Linked DNA regions of Homo sapiens: region 1 is linked to region 2. Evidence: fine-mapped expression QTL. Tissue or cell type: whole blood. Region 2 holds a variant in brackets; the other region holds the start of a gene. All regions are shown on one strand. Distances are between the middles of the regions.

What was found. PIP is the estimated chance that this variant, and not a neighbour inherited with it, causes the effect.
Region 1: MICALL1 starts here. The variant in region 2 is fine-mapped to the expression of MICALL1 in whole blood (TOPMed, PIP above 0.99).

The regions. Positions count from the first base shown.
Region 1 is chr22:37,902,800-37,910,866 of GRCh38, forward strand. MICALL1 (MICAL like 1) reads left to right here and starts at 3,498. Exons shown (of 16, transcript NM_033386.4): 1 at 3,498-3,769. The coding sequence starts at 3,624. RefSeq lists enhancers at 2,189-3,004, 3,005-3,820, 3,821-4,636, 4,637-5,450, 7,440-8,067 and silencers at 3,111-3,830, 3,941-4,050.
Region 2 is chr22:37,818,290-37,826,356 of GRCh38, forward strand. It overlaps GALR3 (galanin receptor 3), which reads left to right and starts at 5,093. Exons shown (of 2, transcript NM_003614.2): 1 at 5,093-5,476; 2 at 6,434-7,196. The coding sequence starts at 5,118. The coding sequence ends at 7,181. RefSeq lists an enhancer at 803-1,354. The variant C/T (reference allele first, on the strand shown) is at 3,639.

The DNA of each region.
Region 1 (8,067 bases), 85 kb after region 2:
GACAGTCAAACTGGAACTTTAGATTTATTTTTAAATTTTTGATAAGAATGATGTATTCAGGCTGGGCATGGTGGCTCATGCCTGTAATCCCAGCACTTTGGGAGGCTGAGGTGGGCACATCACTTAAACTCAGGAGTTTGAGATCAGCCTGGCCAACATGGCGAAACTGTGTCTCTACTAAAAATACAAAAATTAGCTGAGCTTGGTGGCCCATGCCTATAATCCCAGCTACTAGGGAGGCTGAGGCAGGAGAATCACTTGAACCTGGGAGATGAAAGTTGCAGTGAACCGAGATCGTGCCACTGCACTCCAGCCTGGGCGAGAGAGACTCGTCTCAAAAAAAGACAGGGTCTCCCTATATTGCCCAGGCTGGTTTAGTCTTGAACTCCTGGCCTTGGCTCCCAAAGTGTTGGGATTACAGGCATGAGCCACCGTGCCTGGCCCCATTTCTTAATTGATAGTTAAAAATAAAACAAAACAGCACTGAATTAAGGGCCCAAGTCTCTCAATTCTAATCCCGAAATTATAGCATGATTTTGGGCAAGTGCCCTACTCACCTATCTCTGTGGCTTCTGATCTCACCTGTAAACACACAGACCCACCTTCCACCTGAACCCTGGATTTACAGTCTGCACAGCATTTTCTCATCCATTATCTCACCTTGTTACCCACAACCCTGGGATTCAGGCAAAGCAAGTATTATCATCCTCATTTTATAGGGTAAGAAATTGGGGTTCATGAGGGTGAGTTGTCTGGCCTGCGGTCACACACTGTGGTCGTACAGGTCCTTACTTCGAAACATTGTGAGCTGACTCAGATAATGAGTTTATAAAGCCCACAAATGGCTAATGGGGGTGACCAGGCTGTGCTGTGTAAGCTATTAGTATGGCAACAGGATCAGATATGGAGCTGTCTTCAGGGACCTAAAGGGAGCCCTTTAGGCTAGTGAGGACAGGGCTATAATCCCTCCTGGTTTCTTTTGTTTGTTTTTGGTTTTTTGTTTTTTAAATGGAATCTCACTCTGTTGCCCAGGCTGGAGTGCAGTGGTGCGATCTCAGCTCACTGCGTCCTCCACCTCCCGGGTTCAAGCCATTCTCCTGCTGGGATTACAGGTGTGTGCCACCACGCCCAGCTAATTTTTTGTATTTTTAGTAGAGATGAGGTTTCACCGTGTTAGCCAGGCTGGTCTCGATCTCCTGACCTCGTGATCTGCCTGCCTTGGCCTCCCAAAGTGCTGGGATTACAGGCGTGAGCCAAAAAAACCCACCATCTTTGAGATGGAGTCTCGCTGTGTCCCCCAGGTTGGAGTACAGTGGCGTGATCTTGGCTCACTGCAACCTCCGCCTCCCAGGTTCAAGCGATTGTCCTGCCTCAGCCTCTCGAGTAGCTGGGACTATAGGCACGTGCCACCACGCCTGGCTAATTTTTTTATTTTTAGTAGACACGGGCTTTCACCATCTTAGCCAGGCTGGTCTTGAACTCCTGACCTCATGATCCGCCCACCTTGGCCTCCCAAAGTGCTGGGATTACAGTGAGCCACCGCGCCTGGCCCAATTTTTTGTATTTTTAGTACAGACGGGGTTTCACTATGTTGGCCAGGCTGTTCTCAAGCTCTTGACCTCAGGTGATCCACCTGCCTCGGCCTCCCAAAATGCTGGGATTACAGGTATGAGCCATGGTGCCCAACCCCGCCCCCCTTAGGTTTTAATGAGAGTCCTGGGTGGTCTTTGAAGGCCTAGGTGGATGCTGGTGTCAGGATCCTGAACCCAAGTCCCTGATTTCATAAAAAGCATCCGGAATCCTGCTTTCCTGCCACTGTTATCCCACAGGGGACAGGGCAGGAGTTGGCAGCTCAGGGCTGGTGAGAAGTCCAGAGGGCTAGCCAGGCACTCTGGCCATGCTCTTCCTAGGTGGCCTGAGAGTCCATATACTGAGCCAAGATGGCGGCCTTCCAGTTGCAGGAGTGTTAGGCCAGCCCAGATTGGCAAGCTGGGTTCTCCAGGCCCTGGGCCAGTATTCTGGACTGGGACTCAGTGGACTTTGAAGAGGTAGAATTCCCTAAGTCGGCCTCTCTCCTTGATAATTTACCCAGAATGGCCCAGATGACAATCTGGGTACAAAATATTTCAGTCCATTTCATCATGTTTACCAAGTACCAGGAGTCAATAGAATTTATGAGTGATAACTAAAGGGTAAGGCACTTTACATCTTAATCCTCTCAGCCACCTTGTAAAGCAGGTATTATCTCCATTTTTAAGTCGTGGAAACTGAGGTCCAGGGAGGCACAAGATCACATGACTAAGGGAGTGGGGAAAGCCAGGATTGGAGATTGGGTTAATAGGGCTCCAAAATGCCTGATCTTTCCACTCCCCTGAGTGCTCAGGGGTGATGAAGATGACTAAGACCCTGTTCCTTCCCTTGGGAGGGAGCGAAATACCCACTCCAGCTAACTATTGCATGGGTCAGGGTGACATCACCACCTCTGCAGCAGATGGAGGCTGATTCATCTGTGGGAGAGTCAGGAGGGGCCTCTGCGGAAGGGTCGGCTGGCTGGAAGGGTTGGCTGGCTGGAAGGGTCGGTTGGCTGGCGGGGGTTTTGAAGACGGCAAAGATAGAGAATGAGCCTTGGGGAGGTTCCAGGGCCAGATACAAACTGCCTGTATGCCTCCCAGGCAGGGGCCTCCTTGGCCTAGGTCCTTCCCATAGGAACTCAAACCACCACCACACTAACCATGGCTGAGGGGACCCGGCAGGCCGCAGTGGGGAGGGACGAGATCCCTGAGCTTACACAGGGGCTGAGGGGAGCTCAGTGAATCACCTAGGGGACACCTGGACCAAAGGTGGCGGAGGGGCGCATGGGTCTCCCTGCCAAGCTATGGGGGAGGGGATGGTGGACATGACAACTTCCAGCTCAGCGGTGCTTTAGGGTGGGGAGCCGGGATGAGGGAAGCTGGTGGCTATCCGGGGGGGGGTGCTCTGAGGTCTGCAGGGGAACTGCCTCCCCAAAGTTTCAAGCTAGGGGTGGAAGGGGGGATTTGCGGTCATTAGGAGCGGGAAGGAGGCCGGATGGGAGCACGAGGTGTCCCGCCTCCAAAGGGTGGAGGGCTCCCGGTGGGTGGCGCGGCGGCGGCCGCGGCGGTGAAGTCATCGTGGGGAGTGGTCCGCTTGCGGCGGGTGCGGGGGCTTCGCGGGCACCCAGTGGAGCAGCGGGAGCCCGGCGCCGTCGAGGGGCGGGCGATGGGGCGCCGGCCCGTCTTGGTAGGGGTGGGCTCCGCACTGGAGGCGGAGCTGCTGCTGGGTGGGGCGCGCCTCCGGCGCGGACGGAGGCGGCGGGACGCCCGCTCCCACGACCGGCCCACAATGAGGCGAGCGGGCAGCGCGGAGTAGGCGGCGGCCGGCCGGGCCGGGCCACGCGGCGGCGCTGCTCGGGCAGGTTAGGGCAGGGCCGCGGGGCGCCCGAGCGAGGACACCGCGGCCCCGCCTCCGCCCCTCCCCTCGCCTGCCGGTCGGCGCCCGAGCTCGGAGCCGCAGCCGCAGCCGGAAACCGGGCCCGCGCGGCGGCCGCCGTCCCGGCCAAGCCGGGGCCCCGAAGCCAGAGCCGGAGCCGGGCGGGCCGCGGGGTCATGGCTGGGCCGCGGGGCGCGCTGCTGGCCTGGTGCCGCCGCCAGTGCGAGGGCTACCGCGGCGTGGAGATCCGCGACCTGAGCAGCTCCTTCCGGGACGGCCTGGCCTTCTGCGCCATCCTGCACCGGCACCGGCCCGACCTGCTGTGAGTGCGGGGCCCCGGGCGAGCGGGCGGCGCGGGGCGGGCTGGGGCCGCGACCGCCGCCCCCCCTCAGTAACACGAAGCCCGGGCGGTGACAGGCGCCGCCCCCGGACACGGAGACGCCGACCCCCCCGACGGCCCCGGACGCCGGGCGGGTCCCTGAGACCCCGGCCCAGGGCGCCCCTCCCCCGCCCGGCCGCCCTGACCCCGCCCGTGGGATCCCGAACTCTCCCCCGAGGCTGGTCCCTCCGCGGGGACACTGGCCCCGCCCACAAAGCGCTGATTTCCGCCGAGGATCGCTGAACCCCTAAGCCCTTGACCTCTTTGAAGGGGTGTTGAGCCCTCTTTGGGGGCCCTGGGCCTCTCCTACCCTAAACTCTTCTCCACGGGCTCGCCGGGCCTCCCCTCTCCCCCGAGGCTTCCCACTCGGGGTGGCCCCTTGCTCCGGGTGTGCAGGTGAACCCCCACTTCTCTGACCCCCAAATAGGAGCTTGTCTCCGGACAGTAGCACAGTTCCCGGCACAGAGGAGACCTCGGCTAACAGGTGTTGGATGAATGGATGTACAGACCCTGTGCTTTCCCCACGCCCCCCAACTTAGGACGCAGCCCTGCCTCCCGGGTGTGTGCTCGATGGCCCTGCAGCCCTCCTCAGTGGGGCACGCAGGTGGGGCGCGCAAGAGGAGTCACAGGCCGGCAATGTTGGGAAGACTCCTAGGATCCGATTGATAGACACCAACCGGGTGCTGCAGGTTGTGAAATGGCCCCTTCCTGCCCAGAGCTGCCCAATGAGGTTCTCATGGGAAAATGCATTCAGACTCCCCGGAACAGTTGACTTGGAGCCTCTGTCTTTGCTCTCTCTGCCTTGAGCCCTGGAACCTCTCCTCCTTTCGTCCCTTCATTCCTAAAACACTGGGTGAGTTTATCTGGTGCCATTCCTTGCACTTCAGGTCTCACCTGTGAATCAGGGAGGAGAGTTCTGGTCCCTACCCCTTTCGCATGCAGCCCTCTTGCCAGGGCTCCCCCAGCCTGGCAGATGGAGGCTTTCTGTGCCTGTTCCACCTCCAGATTTGCACTGTCCGAGGGCAGCATGTGGGAAGGCTTCTAAGGGATTGCCTCAGGATTCCATGATGCAGGTGCACCTGGTTTACCTGTATGTACCCTGCAGTACCGTGTCTGTGGGTGGTGGCTTGGGCCCTGGAGGAGAGGGTTTTGGGGCTGTGGATACAGAAGGGAACAAGATGAGGTGGTCATGTAGGTGGGCCCCTGCCCGCTGTGGGGCATGTGACACCCATACTAATGGAAGCACAAGGTTGATGCCTGGTTGCCCAGGAGCAGGGGGTAGAAGGATGGAGGAAAAGGGCACCAGGGTTAGACCTGGGCATTGGAAGGGAGGGCCCAAGGGGTCTTCTGTTTTGTTTGAGGGGCAGGAGTGAGGCAGGAAGCAGGGACAAACCCAGTGTGGGAGGGGACTTGGGTGTGAAGTGAAGCCATTTGGTGGGCCTGAGCCTGGTGGCATCAAAGTAAATAAAGGCCGCCTGGTTTGTGTTTAGCTTCTCCATGTCTTAGGCGCATGGCCTTGGGTCCTCATGGGCTCTCTCCAGGCATCAGTGTCCTCATCTGTGAGGTGGGATTGATAATGTGACACAGCTCACAGAAATGTGAGGATTGCATGAGATAACAAGCATTCATTTAACATTAGTTACTGTGAGTAACTAATGTTACTTTTTTTTTTTTTAATGTTTTTTATTTTTTTGAGATGGGGTCTCACTCTGTCACCCAGGCTGGAGTGCAGTGGCACAGTCATGGCTCACTGCAGCCCCCACCTCCCGGGCTCAAGCAATCCTCCCACCTCAACCTCCCTAGTAGCTGGGACCACAGGCACACGCCACCACGCCTGTCTAATTTGTTTGTATTTGTAGAGATGGGTTTTCACCATGTTGCCCAGGCTGGTCTTGAACTCTTGAGCTCAAGTAATCTGCCTACCTCAGCCTCCCAAAATGCTGGGATTACAGGCATGAGCCACCATGCCTGGCCCAATAACAATGTTTGATTTCTTCATTTATTCAACCAGTATTTGTAGAGTCATATTGCTCTGTGCTGGACACTGTACCTGGTAATGGAAGTACCAATCGACAAAACAGGCAACCCTACACGCTCTCCCACACCTGTAGGGGAAACGTGTATAAACGATGATGGCAATTCCATGTACCCTATCAGAGGGCTGGGGGTGGGAGACCTCCTAGGGAGAATATAGTCTTCAAGGAGATGGCAGGAGCCAGGTGAGGGCTGCTGGGTGGACGTTCTGGCATGGGACCCCATCTGAGCAAAGGCAAGGGGCGGGAGGTGTGTGCAAAGCTGGAGGCTGTGTAGCTGAGTGGGGAGCACAAGGTAGCGAGTTGGGAGATGCAGTTGGGACAGATGGCTGACAGCTGCTTTTGCTGGCTAAGGAGCATGGATAGGGGCCTCAGGGAACCATGCAGGGTTTTTTTTGTTTTTGTTTTTGTTTTTTTGAGATGGAGGCCTGTCACCCAGGCTGGAGTGCAGTGGCGTGATCTCGGCTCACCACAACCTCTGCCTCCCGGATTCAAGCGATTCTCCTGCCTCAGCCTCCCAAGTAGCTGGGATTACAGGCACGCACCACCATGCCTGGCTAATTTTTGTAGTTTTTAGTAGAGATGGGGTTTCACCATGTTGGCCAGGCTGGTCTCGAACTCCTGACCTCAGGTGATCCGCCTGCCTCGGCCTCCCAAAGTGCTGGGATTACAGGCGTGAGCCACCATGCCTGGCCGAGCCACGTAGGTTTTTTTTTTTGAGACGGAGTCTCGCTCTGTCAGCCAAGCTGGAGTGCAGTGGCATGATCTCTGCTCACTGCAAGCTCCACCTCTTGGGTTCACGCCATTCTCCTGCCTTAGCCTCCCGAGTAGCTGGGACTACAGGTGCCCGCCACCATGCCTGGCTAATTTGTTGTATTTTTAGCAGAGACGGGGTTTCACTGTGTTAGTCAGGATGGTCTCAATCTCCTGACCTCGTGATCCACCTGCCTTGGCCTCCCAAAGTGCTGGGATTATAGGTGTGAGCCACCGCGCCTGGCCAACCACGTAGGTTTTAAGCAAGGGAGGGATGTGGCTGGAAAAAATGTGCAGGGGAGGGTGGCTCCGCTTCTGAGATCCAGAATCATGTCCAGGCATTCATTTGCAATATTGCCAGCGCATTGCACAGGAGAGAAGCTGAGGCCCAGGTCCCACATAATGTGTAGGGAAGTCCTCAGTGATGGGTTGGGAGGATCTCCGTGAGAATAGGAGTGGCCTAGAGTGAGGGCAAGAATCATCTCCTAAATTGGTTCAGGCTTCTGGGGCTGTGGGCCCTGCCTGGGTGAACCCAGTGTTGGCCCAGGGCTCTGCTGGGACGAGGGTTGTGGGGGCTGGGCCATCCCTCCGCACCACCCGAAATCCAGACATGCTTAAGCTCCTTTGAGGGCGTGGACCATGTGGGTTTCATTTCTGTGTCCTTCATCTTCCCCAGAGCCAAGTAGAACTCCGCAGGCCTCTGAAGACTCTCAGAAAATATATGTGTTACCAAAACACAGATGTTAATTAGGGACAGAGATGGGGGTGGAAGAAAACCTGCAGGATCCTGAAGGTTTTTTACAGTTTTCACACTGTTTTCAACATTGATTCATTCAACAAACATTTACGGAGCATCTTCGAAATTTGGGGAACTGTGTAGGGAGTTGGGGGCACAGAGTAGCTAGAATGTGACCCCAGCCTTCTTGGAACACTTCTGGGGTGACCGAAATAAACGGCTGAGACAAGTTGCTTTTGTCTCATTTGGTCTTGGAAAAAGCCTCTGTTGGGGGCTGGGTACCATGGTGTTTTCCTCGCCCTGTTGCAGTGTCCTGAACCGGACCGGGAGACAGAGGTTTCGAGAGGTGAAACACCTTGCTAAGGTCGCACTCTGAGGCAGTGGCAGAAAAGGGGAGCTAGGGAGGCAGCCCAGGGGAGAAGGAAGTGGCCTGGTCAGAGTGGCAAAAAGGGAGCTGGTGCCCAGACATAGTCACCTTGCCTCTCCCCGTCCACCCAGCCCTGGGGCACCAGACCCCTTCCAAGGTCCTCAAGCAACTCTTTCCTGCCCAGGGTTCACAGTCCCTGGCCCCTGCCTGGAAAAGTGTTGGGGGCAGGAGGAGGGGGCTGTGCTTACCTGGCTCCCTCATATCTGCGAGGCCTGCCCTTTACCAAGCTGGGACTCCACCAGCTTGGGAGGTGGTATTAGTGCTTTTCCTGATTTGCACATGGGACAATGAA
Region 2 (8,067 bases):
GAGGACCTTGCTGCTGGGGTCCAGGAGCTGGGGGAGGGGGGGTGTGGGGGGTCGGTGTGAGGGTGGAAGGCAGCCTGGCTGGGGTAGCTGTGGCCACATTAGCGGCAGGAACATTTGCAGCCCACCACCACCGGCTAGGGCACGTGGCACCAGGCGCGCTGCTGCAGGGGATGTGCACAAGGGCTCAACCAGTAATGTCGAGCCAGCAGCTGGATGAGCATGGTCTGCTCTAGCCAGCAGCTCATGTTAAGCGCCACGGGCAGCTGCGGGGTGACGTGTGGCAGTCGGTGTGCTGCACCCGGCGGGGCCAGAACAGAGGGCCCAGGTCCACCCAGACCGACGTGAGGCGGCACGAGGCGAGATCCAGACAGCGGCGCAGAAAGTGCGTCGCCGCCCCTGTGGCTCCCAGGAGCCGCCGCTGGCGTTGCCCTGCTGCGCTGGCAGCGCCGCGACCCCCTGGGCTAGCCGATCGCGGTAGGGCTCCACGCCGTTGGCCAACCCGCGGCTCAGCGTGTCCTGCTGCACCAGCCCGGGTCCGCCGCCGCGCTTCTTCCGCAGTCATCCAGAAGGTGTCTGTAGGAGGCGCAGCAGCCGCTCTGGGTGCACGTGTTTCGGCTTGGGCGCCTACCGGTAGTCGCCGGCCGCCCACGACAAGCTGTAGGGCCACGCGGGGCGGGAGGGCCGGCCGTGGACCAGCTGCAAGTCTGCGTTCTGCAGAATCAGAGGCTCTGAGGACCGCCCCAAGGGCGCAATGTCCTTGTTCTCTGCGTCGCGCACGGGGTTCAGGGCCGCGGGCTACCAGAAGCGGCAGTAGGAGTGGATGGAGGTGGCACCGGGCGCACCCAAGGTCTAGGCTCACGGCCGCGCTCTTTATGGCCGCCTGTTCCTTCCTCCTTCCCTCCACCTCCGCTCTCATATCAGCTTAGCCTTGCCGCTGCTGGGAGCTCATCGCCCTAGGCCAAGAAGGACCTTGTGGGCAGGGGGCTCCCAAGGGCCAGGAGTGCGAAGTCATGAATCTCAGATGCTTTCCAGCCCGTTCCAGGGTTCAGGCATGCACATTCGTCCAGGCTTCTGGGAGTCTAAGGGTGCGTTACTTTCACGCAGTGGTTGCAGGTCTGTCAAAGTTTCTAAAATCCCACCAAGCTGAGTCTCGCCATTCAGGGATCATAAGAGTCTACAATTCCTTTGCGCAATTCAATTCTGAATTCAATTCAGAATTAATTCAATTCTGGCCGGGCGCGGTGGCTCATGCCTGTAATCCCAGCACTTTGGGAGGCCGAGGCGGGCGGATCACGAGGTCAGGAGATCGAGACCATCCTGGCTAAAACGGTGAAACCCCGTCTCTACTAAAAATACAAAAACAAAACATTAGCCGGGTGTGGTGGGCGCCTGTAGTCCCAACTACTCGGGAGGCTGAGGTGGGAGAATGGCGTGAACCTGGGAGGCGGAGCTTGCACTTGCAGTGAGCTGAGATCGCACCACTGTACTCCAGCCTGGGCAACAGAGCGAGACTGTCTCAAAAATATATATATATATTAATTCAATTCTGAAGCTTCTGAATTCAGGTTTGGCAAGTCTAGATTAGATTCCTAATAGTTTCAATTCCGTGAGACTCTGCTTCCAAAAATTGAGGAATTTCTGCATCTAAAGAAGGTGACATCAGGCTCTATAGAGGCACCTCTGAGCCCTCGTGAAAACCCCGGGGCCTTTGAGGAGCTGGTTCTTTTCTTTTCTTTTTTTTTTTTTTTGAGTCTTGCTCTGTTGCCCAGGCTGGAGTGCAGTGGCACAGTCTCCGCTCACTGCAACCTCCGCCTCCCGGGCTCAAGCCATTCTCCTGCCTCGGTCTCCCAAGTAGCTGGGATTACAGGTGTGCACCACCATACCTGGCTAATTTTTAGTAGAGATGGGTTTCACCATGTTGGCCAGGCTGGTCTTGAACTCCTGACCTCAAGTGATCCAACTGCCTTGGCCTCCCAAAGTGCTAGGATTACAGACATGAGCCACCACGCCTGGCCTTAAGGAGCTAGTTCTGAGCATCTACCCCAGCTCCTCCGGCCTGGGATGCGAGTCCTGGCTCCATCAGCGCCCCTCACACTGTTTTCTCTCCCCTTACGCACTTCCCCTTGATGCTCCCCAACCCCAGCCCCAGCTTCTAAAAACACTACACTCAGCCCCTCCACCTCTCCCCTCCCTTCCTTAACTCACTGCAGACTGCCTTTTGCCCTCAAAACACCTGTCCAGTTTACCAGCAGCCTCCTCATTGCTGAATCCAGTGTACCTTGCTCCCCAGGTGCTAGCCTCCCTAACCCTCTGGAGGCATTTGGCCATGTGGCCCCTCCTCCACACAGTTCAGGACAGAACTCCATGACCAAATCACACAGCCGTTCACCAAGACCTATTCTCCTCTTTGGCTCTTGCCTAGACGAGAGGCTCCTAACAGGTCACTCATCAAATCTCTCCCACTCTGTCCATCCTTTTCACCCCGGGCAATAATAGACTTTTTTTTTTTTTTTTTTTTGAGACAGAGTCGCTCTGTTGCCCAGTCTGGAGTGCGAGCGATCTCGGCTCACTGCAACCACCACCTCCCAGGTTCAAGCGATTCTCGTGCCTCAGCCTCCTGAGTAGCTGGGATTATAGGTGTGAGCCACCATGCCCAGCTAATTTTTGTATTTTTAGTAGAGGCAGGGTTTTGCCATGTTGGCCAGTCTGGTCTCGAACTCTTGACCTCAGATGATCCGCCCACCTCAGCCTCCCAAAGTGCTAGGATTACAGGTGTGAGCCGCTGCGCCTGGCCCATAACAAACTTTTTACAAAAGATAATGTGGGGGGAAAAAAAGAAAGAAAGAAAGAAAATGTGCGGGTCATGTCTCTGCTGTAGAATCTTAGTAGTTCCCCGTTGCTATCAGGTAAAGCCAGACTTTTTGGACAGGTACCTAAACCATCTGGGCTCCAGCTGGACTAAGGCTCTGGAAAGAGCTTCCGGAGAAGGATCTCAGGATTTGCAGAGCCTGAGGGAGGAGTCTCTGGAGTCTGCCGAAAGGAGACTCAAGTCCTGGTTTCCCACTCCAGGAAACCCCAGTCAAGACTAGGAATCCTTTTTTTTTTTTTTTTTTTTTTTTTTTTTGAGACGGAATCTCGCTCTGTCGCCCAGGCTGGAGTGCAGTGGCACGATCTTGGCTCACTGCAACCTCCAACCCCTGGCTTCAAGCAATTCTCTGCCTCAGCCTCCCGAGCAGCTGGGATTACAGGTGCCCGCCACCACACCCAGCTAATTTTTGTATTTTTAGTAGACATGGGGTTTCATCATCTTGGCCAGGCTGGTCTTGAACTCCTGACCTCATGATCCACCTGTCTTGGCCTCCCAAAGTGCTGGGATTACAGGCATGAGCCACCGCGCCCAGCCTCTTCTTTTTTTTTTTTTTTTTTTTTTTGAGACAATGTCTCACTCCATCACCTGGGCTGGAGTGCAGTGGCGTCATCTCGGCTCATTGCAACCTCCACCTCCCAGGTTCAAGCGATTCTCCTGCCTCAGCCTCCAGAGTAGCTGGGATTACAGGCGCCCGCCACGACGCTCAGTTAATTTTTGTATTTTTAGTAGAGACAAGGTTTCGCCACATTGGCCAGGCTGGTCTCGAATT[C/T]CTGGCCTCAAGTGATCTGCCTGCCTCAGCCTCCCAAAGTGCTGGGATTACAGACGTGAGCCACCATGCCCGGCCTAGGAACCTTTTCTAAACATGGATTGGAGCAAGAAGGTGCAGGGATAGGGGATGGAGTCACATCAGGCTGGGCCACAGGAGGTGGGAGTGCCAGAGACTGGCTGGGCCCTGGGCACAGAGGGGTTAACTACAAAGCAAATCACAGAGAGCGAGATCAATGGGTTACTGGCTGCAGAGAGAGGAAAAGGCAGCAGCAACGCAGAGAGGCAGAGAAGAGCCAGGCAGAAGAGCCTGCCACCTGGGGGAAATCAGGGACTGAGGAGGAAGTGGCCAGTGGCTACTCCAGAGGGAGTGCCCAACTCCGGCTCAGCAGAGGGGGCAGAGGAGAGGAGGGGCCTTAAAGGCAAAGGGGGAGAAGTAGAAGGCAGACCAGTACCTGCAGGGAGGCACCAAGGGGCAGCCGCTGAATCAGGAGGCCCACCCAGCCCGGCCATTCCACCCAGGATCAAGCCCACTGCCCAAGGCGGAGGTGGGTGTTGCCCATCCTGGGCTTTGGGGACCTACTGCATGCTGGGTGCTGGGATGGGGGCAGACATTGCCTTTCTTCCCTACTCCCTGCCTGACCCCCCTTTCCCCTACTTTGTCCCACCACCCCAGTGGTCTCAAGCCTGCAAGGAGATCCACAGGCAGTAGGAGACATGGGCTGTAGAGTGGGATGGGGGTGAGCATGGGTGCGGTGTGCACACACACAAGTTGTCAGAGGCACCACCTGTTACAAGCTCTCAGATGAGCACTCTAGCTTAAGAGGCAGGATACCAGGGTGGCAACAGCCCCAGAGCTGCCATTTCGAGTGTGATATTATCCTCCCATGTCCCCTCTCTGGGCCTCAATTTCCCTATGTGCAGAGAGGAAGCAGTGACCTACACGGTCTTCCCAGTTTTGCCATTGTGATGATCTCACTATACTGGACCCTCCAATGACTCAGGGATGTTACCCGTGTTTTGCTAAGGCTACAGCTTGTAGCCAGAGAAAGCCCTAAACCCATGTCCCAGGGTCTCCCCTGAGCTTCAGATCCCCATTGAGAAGGAAAACATACCAGTTTCTGGGTTTGGCCCCTCCCCCCATCGCCATATCTTCATCCTACTTCGCTTGTGCCTTCCCCAGCCTCGTGGGTTGAAAGTGTCCCTCAAATACCTAGGTAGTCCTCCAGGCAGGACTCCAGGGGTGTTCCTTAGGAAACTGAGGAACTCTCACCCCTTGAACACCACGAGCTTGCTCACACAGTGACACTCAGCGATGACTTTGGCTCTGCTCTCCCCTCCTCCATCTCCCACGAGCTTCCAGCCCAGAACACCTGGCCAGACCCAGGTCGGGGGAGTTAGATCCCGGGGTCAAGCAACCAGAACTGGGGGCTCTTGCCTGAGGATTCCAGCTTCTCTTCCCAGGTGCCCGTCTGATGGGGAGATGGCTGATGCCCAGAACATTTCACTGGACAGCCCAGGGAGTGTGGGGGCCGTGGCAGTGCCTGTGGTCTTTGCCCTAATCTTCCTGCTGGGCACAGTGGGCAATGGGCTGGTGCTGGCAGTGCTCCTGCAGCCTGGCCCGAGTGCCTGGCAGGAGCCTGGCAGCACCACGGACCTGTTCATCCTCAACCTGGCGGTGGCTGACCTCTGCTTCATCCTGTGCTGCGTGCCCTTCCAGGCCACCATCTACACGCTGGATGCCTGGCTCTTTGGGGCCCTCGTCTGCAAGGCCGTGCACCTGCTCATCTACCTCACCATGTACGCCAGCAGCTTTACGCTGGCTGCTGTCTCCGTGGACAGGTGCGCTGTGCCTGGGGCCTGGCTGGGCAGGGCTGTGGGGGCGGGGGTTGGGGGAGGAGTCCTGAACAGATCCTCACTGGCCTTAGGAAGGAGAGAGTGGGGGACCAGAAAGGGAGGTGGGTGGGAGGAAACAAAAGCTCCCTGACCCCTCGCAAGCAGCCTCTGGGCACCTGCAGGGCGTGCTTGAGGGGACTGTCCTGCCCTTCCCCTCCTCCACTGTGAACTTCCAGAGGACGCCTCTGAGTCTCAAGTGGCAGCACAGGGTCTGGCACATAGTAAGTGCTCTGTAAGCGCGAAATGAATCGCAAAAGAAGCTCACGAATGCGTTCATCAGTTTTTTTGTTTTGTTTTGTTTTGTTGTTTTTTTTTTTTGGATCTTGGCTCACTGCAACCTCTGCCTCCTGGGTTCCAGCGATTCTCCTGCCACAGCCTCCTGAGTAGCTGGGATTACAGGCCACCACACCTGGCTAATTTTTTGTATTTTTAGTAGAAACGGGGTTTTGCCATGTTGGACAGGCTGGTCTCGAACCCCTGACCTCAAGTGATCCGCCCGCCTCGGCCTCCCAAGTGCTGGGATTACAGGCGTGAGCCACCGCGCCCAGCCCAGCTATTTTCTAACTGCCCACACCTGGCCAAGCTGTGCACACATCTGCTTCCACAGCTTGAAACTTGGGGTCAAATCCAGGCTCACTCCAGCTGATGACCCTGGGCAAGTCACTTCTCTCTGGACCTCATCTGACGCATCCATAAAATAATCCTAGAAATAACAAGTCACCGGGATCGGGCCCTTGCTAGGTGCAAGGGCCTAAGCACCTTGCGCGTTCACACCCTTAATCCCCGCCACGTCCCCCACGGTTCACAGGAGGCGCACTGGGCCGCAGGGCCCGGGCGCGGGACGTGGCGCGGGCCCCTGCGGGAGGGCACCTGCCCGCCCCGCTGACCAGGCGCCCTCCGCAGGTACCTGGCCGTGCGGCACCCGCTGCGCTCGCGCGCCCTGCGCACGCCGCGTAACGCCCGCGCCGCAGTGGGGCTGGTGTGGCTGCTGGCGGCGCTCTTCTCGGCGCCCTACCTCAGCTACTACGGCACCGTGCGCTACGGCGCGCTGGAGCTCTGCGTGCCCGCCTGGGAGGACGCGCGCCGCCGCGCCCTGGACGTGGCCACCTTCGCTGCCGGCTACCTGCTGCCCGTGGCTGTGGTGAGCCTGGCCTACGGGCGCACGCTGCGCTTCCTGTGGGCCGCCGTGGGTCCCGCGGGCGCGGCGGCGGCCGAGGCGCGGCGGAGGGCGACGGGCCGCGCGGGGCGCGCCATGCTGGCGGTGGCCGCGCTCTACGCGCTCTGCTGGGGTCCGCACCACGCGCTCATCCTGTGCTTCTGGTACGGCCGCTTCGCCTTCAGCCCGGCCACCTACGCCTGCCGCCTGGCCTCACACTGCCTGGCCTACGCCAACTCCTGCCTCAACCCGCTCGTCTACGCGCTCGCCTCGCGCCACTTCCGCGCGCGCTTCCGCCGCCTGTGGCCGTGCGGCCGCCGACGCCGCCACCGTGCCCGCCGCGCCTTGCGTCGCGTCCGCCCCGCGTCCTCGGGCCCACCCGGCTGCCCCGGAGACGCCCGGCCTAGCGGGAGGCTGCTGGCTGGTGGCGGCCAGGGCCCGGAGCCCAGGGAGGGACCCGTCCACGGCGGAGAGGCTGCCCGAGGACCGGAATAAACCCTGCCGCCTGGACTCCGCCTGTGTCCGTCTGTCTCACTCCCGTTCTCCGAAGGCGGGACGCCACCGGGCCAGGGATGGGGCAATGCCACGAGCTCTCTGAGGGGCGTTGAGTGGAGCGACTTGTCCCCGCTCCACAGCGGAGCACCAGCCCAGTGGACACCCCTGGGTGTGAATATGAACAGCACAGCCCGCCCCCAGCAGGGCAGCCCCCAGAGCCTGCCCAGAGCCAGCCTGGCAGTCCCTCTGCCCATTCTTCCAACTGGGTGACACCTAGGCCCTGCTTCCTCCACCACCTCTTAACTATCTCCTTCTTGGTTCCAAGCTCAGTCCTAGGTAATTTAACATCAACAGCTAATAAATGGCTAATATTTAAGTGGGACCAGGCGCTTGGCTCATGCCTGTAATCTCAGCGTTTTGGGAGGTCGAGGCGGGAGGATCGCTTGAGGCAGCAGTTCAAGGCTGCAGTGAGCCATGATCACGCTACTGCATTCCAGCCTAGACAGCAAAGCAAGACCTTGTCTCTAAAAACATTTATTAAGCAGGTACCATATGCCTCATGCTACATTCTTTGTCAAAACAGCTTTGCAAATAGATATGATTAACCTTTCCTTTTTTTTTTTTTTTTTTTTTGTCTTTTAGAGACAGAGTTTTGTCTCCCAGGTTGGACTACAGTGGCGCCATCTCGGCTCACTGCAACCTCCGTCCCCCGGGTTCAAGCAATTCTCCTGCCTCAGCCTCCAGAGTAGCTGGGATTACAGGCGCCCACCACCACATCCGACTAATTTTTTTTTTTAATAGAGATGGGGTTTCACCATTTTGGACAGGCTGGTCTTGAACTCCTGACCGCAGATGATCCGTCCGCCTCGGCCTCCCAAAGTGCTGG